2 separate regions of the Homo sapiens genome follow, and region 2 is linked to region 1. Evidence: fine-mapped expression QTL. A gene starts in region 1. The other region holds a variant in brackets. All regions are shown on one strand. Distances are between the middles of the regions. Region 1 holds the start of ZNF740 (zinc finger protein 740). Region 2 has its middle 32 kb from the start of ZNF740.

The links. PIP is the estimated chance that this variant, and not a neighbour inherited with it, causes the effect. A credible set is the group of variants that fine-mapping cannot tell apart.
Region 2: its variant is the best candidate, but not a certain one, in a credible set for the expression of ZNF740 in NK cells (Schmiedel 2018, PIP 0.73).

The regions. Positions count from the first base shown.
Region 1 is chr12:53,177,422-53,182,805 of GRCh38, forward strand. It overlaps ZNF740 (zinc finger protein 740), which reads left to right and starts at 3,301. Exons shown (of 7, transcript NM_001004304.4): 1 at 3,301-3,416; 2 at 4,256-4,571. The coding sequence starts at 4,563. It overlaps CSAD (cysteine sulfinic acid decarboxylase), which reads right to left and starts at 3,504. Exons shown (of 17, transcript NM_001244705.2): 1 at 3,311-3,504; 2 at 1,681-1,721. RefSeq lists an enhancer at 2,770-3,328 and silencers at 2,991-3,080, 3,371-3,670, 4,024-4,318.
Region 2 is chr12:53,145,558-53,150,941 of GRCh38, forward strand. No RefSeq gene overlaps it. Among named protein-coding and RNA genes, the nearest start is that of ZNF740, 32 kb to the right of the region's middle. The variant G/A (reference allele first, on the strand shown) is at 2,406.

The sequences.
Region 1 (5,384 bases):
GATTTCTACCATCAATAAGAAATATACAAATGATCTACCTTTTTTTAATGGGCAAAGGATATGAACAGACAGTTTACAAAAACAATTAAAATGGTCAAAGAGCAATAAAATAGTCCCACCTATTTGGAAGGCTGAAGTGGGAGGATCACTTGAGCTCACGAGTTGGAAACCAGCCTAAGGCAACAAAGCGTGGAGACCCATCTATTTATTTATTTATTTATTTATTTATTTTTTGAGACAGAGTTTCGCTCTTGTTGCCCAGGCTGGAGTGCAATGGCACAATATGGGCTCACTGCAACCCCCGCCTCCCGGGTTCAAGTGATTCTCCTGCCTCAGCCACCTGGTAACTGGGATTACAGGCACGTGCCACCAAGCCCAGCTAATTTTTTTGTATTTTTAGTAGAGATGGGGTTTCTCCATGTTGGCCCAGCTGGTCTCAAACTCCTGGCCTCAGGTGATCCGCCCACCTCGGTCTCCCAGAGTGCTGGGATTACAGGCGTGAGCCACCGTGCCTGTCCAGAGACCCATCTCTTAAAAAAAAAAAAGGCAATAAGAGAATATTAACTTCACTATTAATGACATGAAAATTAAAACAAATACTATTTTTCACCCATTAAACTAGTAACTGTATAAAAAATTCATAGCATACACTAAACATTGCCAAAGTTGTAGGAATAGGGAACATTCACACATGGTTCTGAGTAAACATGGGAGTTGTTACAAACTTTTACAATTCATTTTCACAGAATCTATTAAAATTTACATATCCGGCCAGGCATGGTGGCTCAATCCTGTAATCCTAGCACTCTAGGAGGCCGAGGCCAATGGATAGCTTGAGCCTAGGAATTCGAGACCAGCCTGGGCAACATGGCAAAACCCTGTCTCTACAAAAAACAAAAAAACAAAAAAAAAACTACAAAATTATCCAGGCACAGTTGCCCACATCTGTAGTCCCAACTACTTGGGAGGCTAAGATGGGAGGATTCCTTGAGCCCAGGAGGTTGAGGCTGCAGTGTGCCCTGACTGCACCATTGCACTCCAGCCTGGGCGACAGACCAAGACCCTATCTTTAAACAGAATGAAAATAGGGCCGGGTGTGGTGGCTCACACCTGGAATCCCAGCACTTTGGGAGGCCAAGGTGGGTAGATGACCTGAGGTCAGGAGTTCAAGACCAGCCTGACCAACATGGTGAAACTCCATCTCTACTAAAAAATACAAAAAAATTAGCCGGGCTGGCAGCAGGCGCCAGCTACTCAGGAGGCTAAGCCAGGAGAATTGCTTGAACCTGGGAGGTGGAGGTTGCAGTGAGCCAAGATTGTGCCATTGCACTCTAGCCTGGGTGACAGAGTGAGACTCCATCTCAAAAAAAAATAAAAATAAAAATAAATTTAAATAAAAGCACATATCCTATCTATAAATCCTTATAAATGCAAAAGGTAACTTTTTTTTCTTTTTTGAGACAGAGTTTCACTCTTATTGCCCAGGAAAGGCACGACTCTCGCCTCACCACAACTCCCGCCTCCCGGGTTCAAGTGATTCTCCTGACTCAGCCTCTCGAGTAGCTGGGATTACAGGCATGTGCCACCACGCCCGGCTAATTTTGTATTTTTAGAAGAGACGCGGTTTCTCCATGTTGGTCAGGCTGGTCTGGAACTCCCGACCTCAGATGATCCGCCCACCTCGGCTTCCCAACGTGCTGGGATTACAGGTGTGAGCCACCCTGCCCGGAGCAAAAAGATAACTATTTAAGGATGTTCATTATTGTATTGTTTATAAAGCAAAAAAATCTGAAACCTAAATGTTCATCAAGATGGGACAAGGCACACACATAAACTGGAATACTGTGCAACAGTTTTTTAAATGTTAGCTGACTCAGATGTCTAAAATACACTGTATGGCGCATTACAGGTGCTCAATAAATACTGGTTGAAAAGATTTTTGTATGAACACAGAAAAAAGCCTAAAAGCATATATACCAAACTGGTAAGAATGATTCCCTTCAGGAGCATGGGATAAGTAGAGGGGGAGAATAACCATTTTGTGTCTTTTATACTTTTGCGTTGTGTCGATTTGTAAAATAAGTAGGAGCTAATTTTCAAAAAAGATTTAAAAGACTTATTCCTGGTGATGTTTCTTTATCTCTCTCTTTCTCCATTTTGTCTCTATTTTAGAATGATCCTAAAACACAAAAAACGTACTTTCAATGGCCCAAATCATGGAGTGGCTCAGGGAAATGAAATCTGTCTACAAAAAAAAAAAAGTTGAGAATCCTTGTCTTTTTTTCATCATACAGTTTTTTTTTTCTTTTGGTATCACCATTACTTCTCCTAAAGTCACGACATAATATCACCTACAGCAGAAATGAGGACTTCAGTGGAATTGACATCTCCTTCCATCAAGCGCATTTGCAGTCCATCTTTAGCAGGACCTCTCTCTAATGGCTAAGGCTAGGCAGAAGAATTTGAAGACAGTCTGGTTTCCATTTTCCTAATGCAGCCTGGCCCAAGAGCCAGGACTCCCATAAGACTAGTCTACTGTGGGAGTCAGGGTCTTTTCCACGTGTGGAGGCTAGTGTTTGATGCTGGACGGCCTGGAGTAAAGGGCGAAGGGGAGAAGGTAACCAACCAGGCTGGCCTCGGGATTCGCAGAGGAGGGCTGGGGCTTTGACTTCTGCAGGGAGGTGAGCAGTGTGGCCAAGGGCTACTCAAGGAACGCCTCTGCGAGAATTCAGACTGTGGTTGAGCGCACAAAGCAAGAGTGTGCGAAGAAAAGTTAACGCCTCTCCCAGCTGACCCCAAAATCTGCTAATCTGGGCCTGACGGAAAAAATTCGGAGAAGAACCACCTCGGCCGAGTTACGTGAAAAGGCTGGGTACGAACTACTCTGGCTCTACTTGGGGCGCCGGCTCAGAGCGATGGGCAGGACGTCCGCGAGGAAGAAAGAGTGACGATGATTTTTCAAGGAGTCTGAACCAGCTCACCCAGCAAACCCTCCTCCCATCGAGCACCCAGCGTACAATCATCGAAGGGCCGAGGGTCCTGCCCTCAGTCTCGATGGCGGCCGGGGCGCGCCCCGGCCACGGCGCACGCGCCGGCCTCAGCGCTCCCTCCTCCATGCCCTCGGCGCACGGCGCCGCCCACTCACCCAGCTGCACCTCTCCGTGCGTCCCCAAGCTCACCCGCTCTGAGGCTGCCCCCGCTAGTCTAGCTGCCGAGCCCGGAAGTGGATGCAGCCGCTCGGCGGAGAGGACGAGGGGGAGGGGGAAGTGCTTCCGGGGAAACGGGCCGGGGTTGGTGTTTGTAAACTTGCCTCGGTCCCGGTGGGGGCAGCCGCGGCGGTGGGGTTGGCAGGGTGTGCTGGGGCCTGGAGGAGGCGCCGCGCGGCCAGGGAGCCAGCGGGAGGCCGCGCCTGGCAGGTAGGAGCAAGCCCCAAAGACCGCAGCGTCGTCCGTACAGACGGCAGCGCTTCAGTAGCTCGCAAGCCGTGGGGTGCCGCGCGGGAAGGGGGAGGGGAGGGGAGGAGGGGCGCGTGGCGAAGGGAGGGGGATCTCCGGGGGAGGGAGGGGAAAGGCCGTGCGCGCACACCGCCCCCTGCCCGCGCGTCCCGCCGCGTCCCCGGCCCGGGAGAGGGCTCTCGGAGGGGACGCGGGCGCGAGCACGCATCTCGCGCGCTTCTCGGCACTCTCCGGCTCTGCTCCCGGTTGGTGCAGCGGGTGCAGAGGCTGGCTGGCCGGAGCGAGGCGGGCGACACGCCGCGCCGGGCTTCGCCTGCCTGTCCTCCACCTCCGCAGCAAGTTTCCCTACCTTCGGGCGGACGGGGAGAACGCACACGTGTGGGCACTGCCAGTCCCGTTTCTGCCCGCCACCGAAGCACCCAGCGATGGCCCTTGAGCTTTCCTCCACCCTAGTCTTGCCGCCTCTGTAAAGTGCGAGCTTTTCGGGCCGGCCCACTGGGCACAAAAGCCCCAAAGGGTCTCCGCCCCCTTCTTCCATTCCTGAGATGGCAAATCCAAGCAACTTTCCTTTTGGCAGAGTTCCTCCATAGGAGGCCCCAATTACTTTTGCTCCTGTTGGCTTCCACTCCTTGCCCAGGAGACCAGTTCCTCCTATTGACCTAGAAAGAAAACTCTTCTTGACTCATGTCCTCGTTCTGAGCTTCACAGAGAGCGCCCAGCAAAAAAAAAATTCATATCGCACGTTGTAATGGCCTGAAGATGTTGCATTTAGCAGCCCCCCTCTTCCTTTCTGGTTTCAGGTTTCTGAAACAGATCGTGAGCTTCATCAAGAGAATTCAACTGGAAAACCAAGACTGGTAGACTCTCTTTTTCTTCAGACAATAGGCAGGAGCCAGGCAGAGTCCAGGGATTCTTGGAACACCTATCTTTTCTTCGGAGGACACTAAGTTCTATTTGAAGACAAAGTTCAATATGGCAACAGGACTGATGGGACACGAAGGAGTCGCTACCGTGATTTGGTGACAGTTCTTCAAAACGACAGTGTCTCAAGGAAAGGTGGACCTAGGAACTCCTGAACTTTTGGGTTGCCTTAAGTGAGAAATCAGCATGGCTCAGGTAAAAAGCTCTAGAGTCCTCCTCCAAGATAACTGGGAAGCCTGTTTGCAGTTTCACTCTTGAATGCTGCCTTAGTCAACATATTGACCAACCCCAGTGATCCAAGCTCTGTATTAAGCACCAGGGGGAGATCTAGAGGAAGGAAAGGAGACAGGCCACAGCCCCTGCCTTCAGGGAGCTTCCAGTCAAATGAAGGAGGTAGGCTATACTGCATCACAGGCACTGATGGGACATTTGCAAAGCAACGTGTACTCAGTTTACATTTGGTACATTAAGTGCTGAGGGGTGTAAGGGAGTGAATAGTACGGTGAATGCTTCTTTTGTTTTTTTCCAACAGGAATTTATTGAGTTCCTGTTGCATGCAAGGCATTGTGCTGGGAATACAAAGATGAATACGATTGTCCTTGTCCCCAGTGAGCTTCCAGGCTAGTTGGGGTCGGGAGAGGGATGGAAAGCCATTTATTTTTATATTCACAATGCCTTGTATAGTGGCTGGCTAGTAGTAGAGACTCTGAATCTGTTGATTGAGGAATGTGCAATAATAGGGGTATGTACATAGGAGAGAACAGTACTTCTGCTTGGATAGAAAAAGAAGATGGAGGTTGAAAGATGCATAGGATTTTGCTAAACAAGCGAGAAGGGTGTTTGGACAAAAGGAACAGCATGGGCAGGAGCTTAGAGTCATGGGAAAATGTGATGAGGTTCCGAGTACTGCAGGTTGTTTGATAGTTACGGAGTAAGGGATTTAAATGGGGATAGTTATGGAGGTAGTATTGACAGTGATAGGTGAGGAAGTTGTTCCCTGCAGTAAGC
Region 2 (5,384 bases), 32 kb before region 1:
CTCAATCAGAGTCCAAGGGCATGAGAACTAGGGCAGCCAGTGGCAGAGCTCCCAGTCTGAGGCCAAAGGCCTGAGAACCAGGGCAGGAAATGGTGTCATCCCAGAGTCCAAAGGCCTGAGAACCAGGACCTCCAGTGTCCTCAGGTGAGTGTCAAGGGCATAAGATTGATGTCCCAGCTCAAGAAGACAGAGAATGTGCCCTTTCCTCACCTTTTTGTTCTATTGAGCCCTCAGTGATTGGATGATGCCTGCACATTGATGAGGACAGATCTTCTTTCCTCAGTACAGCAATTCAAATGCAAGCTCTTCTAGAGACAGCCTCACAGACACACCCAGAAATAATGTCTACCAGCTCTCTAACCTAGGCCAGTTGACATACAACATCAACCGTCACAGGCCAGACATTAGGGCTCATGTCCCTAATCCCAGCACTTTGGGAAGCTGAGGCAGGAGGTTCATTTGAGCCCAGCCTGGCCAACATAGCAAAACACCATCCCAGGCCAGGCGAGGTGGCTCACGCCTGTAATCCCAGCACTTTGGGGGACTGGGGTGGGCAGATCACTTGAAATCAGAAGTTCCAGACCAACCTGGCCAATACAGTGAAACCCCGTCTCTACTAAAACAAAATACAAAAATTAGCCAGGAGTGGTGGCATGCACCTGTAGTCCCAGCCACTTGGGAGGCAGAGGCTGGGGAATTGCTTGAACCCAGGAGGTGGAGGTTGCAGTGAGTCGAGATCATGCCACTGCACTCCAGCCTGGGCAACAGAGCAAGACTCCATCTCAAAAAACAACAACAAAAAAAGAACACATCATCCCTACCAAAAAAAAAAATCAACCATCACAGCAATAAACCTCTCACTAAAATGAACAGGAAGAAAAAAAAGGGAGAAAACACAAATAATTAATATCAGAAATGAAAAAAGTGACAATATAGGTTCTACAGAACTGAAAGGATAATAAGAAAATAAGTTTATGTCAATAAGTGCTGAAACGTAGATGAAATAGACAAATTTCTGGACAGGTTTGGTGGCTCATGCCTGTAATCTCAGCTCTTGGGAGAGTGAAGCGGGAGGATCGCTTAAAGCCAGAAGTTTGAGACCAGTGTGGGCAACAAAGTAAGACCCCATTTCTACAAGAAAAAAAAAATAGCCAGGCTTGAAGCATGCTCCTGTAGTCTCAGTTACTCAGGGAGCTGAGATGGAAGAATTGCCTGAGCCCAGGAGTTTGAGACCAGCCTGGGAGATAGAGTGAGACCCCATCTCAAAAAAAAAAGGAAAGAAAAGAGACTGTTTTTTTTTAACTGCTTCTTGTGGAACAGGGCTACCTCATAGGCAGTGTCCCCAAGACAAATTTCTTTCTTTCTTTTTTTGAAACAGGATCTCACTCTGTCACCTAGGCTGGAGTGCAGTGGCACGATCTCAGCTCACTGCAACCTCTGTTTCCTGGGCTCAAGTAATTCTCCAGCCTCAGCCTCCCATGTGCTGGGATTACAGGCATAAGCCACCAAAGCCTGGCTAGTTATATATACATACACATATATATAGGGGTGTGTGCATATATATATATACACACACACATACACACACATATGTGTATATATACATATACACACCTACACACATATATATGTGTATATATACATATACACACACATATATGTGTATATATACATATACATACATATGTGTATACACATGTATATGTGCACATATGTATACGTATATGCACATATACATACATATATGTATACATATATACACATATATGTGCATGTATGTATACGTATGTGCACATATGTACATGTGTATGCATAAATACATATATGTACATGTGTATACATAAATACACATATATGTACATGCGTGTACATAAATACACATATATGTACATGCGTATACATAAATACACATATATGTACATGTGTATACATATATACACATATATGTACATGCGTATACATATATACACATATGTACATGTGTGTACATAAATACACATATGTACATATGTGTACATAAATACACATATGTACATGTATACATATATACACATGTATGTACATGTATATATATACACATGTATGTATACGTATATACACACATATATGTATATGTATATATACACACATATATGCATATGTATATACACACACATATGTGTATATGTATATATGTATATATACACGTATATATGTATATATACGTATATATGTATACATACACGTATACATGTATATATGTATGTATATATGTGTGTATATATGCATGTATACGTGTGTATGTATATATGTGTATGTATATATACGTATATAGACGTATTATACACATATACGTATATATATACGTGTATATACACGCTTATATACACGCGTATATACACGCGTATATATACACGTATATGTGT[G/A]TGTGTGTGTGTGTGTGTGTGTGTGTGTATTTTTTTTTTTGGTAGAGATGACGTTTTACCATGTTGCCCAGGCTGGTCTCAAACTCCTGAGCTCAAAGCAATCCACCCACCTCAGCCTCCCAAAGTTCTGGGATTACAGGCGTGAGCCACCATGCCCGGCTGCCAAAACAAATTTCTTAACAGACAAAAACTACCAAAGTTTACCTAAGAAGAAACAGTCCTGAATAGCCATTATCTTTATTTTTTTTTTTTTTTATTATTTTTCTTTGAGACAGAGTCTTGCCTTTCGCCCAGGCTGGAGTGCAATGGTGCTGTCTCACCTCACCGCAACCTCCGTCTCCCGGGTTCAAGCAATTCTCCTGCCTCAGCCTCCATGGGCCATAATTCTATGAAACTTGTAATGCTAATGCTAAATCAAGGGTTGTGAAAACACTGCCATCTTTATACAAAACCCAACCTCCAGCCGGGTGTGGTGGCTCACACCTGAAATCTCAGCACTTTGGGAGGCCGAGGCGGGCGGATCATCTGAGGTCGGGAGTTCCAGACCAGCCTGACCAACATGGAGAAACCCTGTCTCTACTAAAAATACAAAATTAGCCGGGCATGGTGGCACATGCCTGTAATCCCAGCTACTCAGGAAGGCTGAGGCAGGAGAATCACTTGAACCCGGGAGCTGGAGGTTGCTGTGAGCCTAGGCCACTGCACTCCAGCCTGGGCAACAAGAGCGAAACTCGGTCTCAAAAAACAAACAAACAAACAAAAACCCAACCTCCAAGTTCCTCCACTTAACATTTAAAAACTCTAGAAAGGAGGGTGGGTCGGCTGGGTGCAGTGGCTCATGCCTGTAATCCCAGCACTTTGGGAGGCCGAGGCGGGCAGATCAAGAGGTCAGGAGATTGGGACCATCAGTTGGTCCCAATTGGTCAGATTGGGCTAACACGGTGAAACCCCGTTTCTACTAAAAATGCAAAAAGTTAGCCGGGCAGGGTGGCACCTGCCTGTAGTCCCAGCTACTCGGGAGGCTGAGGCAAGAGAATCGCCTGAACCCAGGAGGCGGAAGTTGTAGTGAGCCGAGATCGCGCCACTGCATTCCAGCCTCAGCGACAGAGCGAGACTCCATCTCAAAAAAAAAAAAAGAAAGGAGGGTGGGTCAATCAGGCACCACAACTCTGTGGCTCATCCCCCTCCCCTCCCCCTCTGTTATCAGCCACTCTCCCTGCTGCTCCTCTTCGAGTCCCAGGGGAACATCACTTACTCCTTTTTAGACTCTGGCCCATCATTTCCCTTAGCATAGCTAAGATGGGTTGGGAGATCCAAAAGGATGTTAGTTTAAATTTTTAAAGTACTGAACATACTCAGTACCAATGAACACATCTGGTGCCTAGATTGGGTTTTCTAAATACTGTTCTCTGCTAAAAGGAATCAGAGCTTTCTGAAGACCTGGTTGATCTCAAGACTGGGGCAGACAAGGAGAAAGATTAGCCTGAAACATTTTTGTTGTGCCAGGAAATAAGGCAGTGCTGGGAAAAAAAAAAAAAAAAAAAAGTAATGTTGGCTGGGTGCCGTGGCTCACGCCTGTAACGCCTGCACTTTGGGAGGCCAAGGTGGTTGGATCACTTGAGGTCAGGAGTTCGAGACCAGCCTGGCCAACATGGCGAAACCCCATCTCTACTAAAAATACAAAAATTGGCTGGGCGCGGTGTCTCACGCCTGTAATCCCAGCACTTTGGGAGGCCGAGATGGGCGGATCACGAGGTCAGGAGATCGAGACCATCCTGGCTAACACGGTGAAACCCCGTCTCTACTAAAATATGAAAACAAAAAATTAGCCAGGTGTGGTGGTGGGCGCCTGTAGTCCCAGCCACTCAGGAGGCTGAGGCAGGAGAATGGTGTAAACTCAGGAGGCGGAGCTTGCAATGAGCCGAGATCGCACCACTGCACTCCAGCCTGGGTGACAGAGCGAGACTCCGTCGCAAAAAAAAAAAAAAAAAAAAACAAGCAAACAAACAAATTAGCCGGGCGTGGTGGCGGGTACCTGTAATCCCAGCTACTCAGGAGGCTGAGGCAGGAGAACTGCTTGAACCCAGAAGGCAGAGGTTGCAGTGAGCCAAGATCGCGCCACTGCACTTCAGCCTAGGTGACAGAGCCAGACTGTGTCTCAAAAAAAAAAAGAAAAAAAGTAATGTCAAAAGACATGGAAGTGCCGGGTGACTCATGTCTGTAGTCGCAGCACTTCAGGAGGCCAAGGTGGGAGGATCACTTAAGGCCAGGAGTTGGAGACTGGCCTGGGCAACATAGTGAGATCCTGTCTTCACACACACACACACACACACACACACACACAAATTTTTTAAAGGACATGGAAGCCAAATTAAAGGGGCTCCCTCCGGTCAAAACTGGAATAATTTGAGCATTAAAATAAGAACTGAAATTAATTATAATCTATTGAATAAAACCAAAGTCCATATTGATAATACACATGAATGAAAAAGGAGTGGGGAGGGCTCTTTTTTATAGTCTAATGCCAAATGACAAAAATGGAGGGAATGCTGGAGTTAGAAAATCAACATTGTGCAACCAATATGATAAAAACTGGCTAGGGGCCAGGTGCAGTGGCTCACACCTGTAATCCCAGCACTTTGGGAGGCTAAGGTGGGTGGATGACTTGAGATCAAGAGTTCGAGACCAGCCTGGCCAATATGGTGAAACCCCATGTCTACTAAAAATTAAAAAAAAAAAAAAATTAGCCGGGCGTGGTGTCATATGCCTGTAGTCCCAGCTACTCAGGAAGCTGAAGCAGGAGAATCACTTGAGCCCGGGAGTCAGAGGTTACAGTGAGCCGAGACTGCACCACTGCACTCCCGCCTTGGTGACAGAGCGAGACTCTGTCTCAATAAACAAACAAACAAACAATTGGCTAGGGTAAAATCATGAATGGATACTGATGCAGGGCAGGCAAGCCCCATAGTAGGGCTTAGC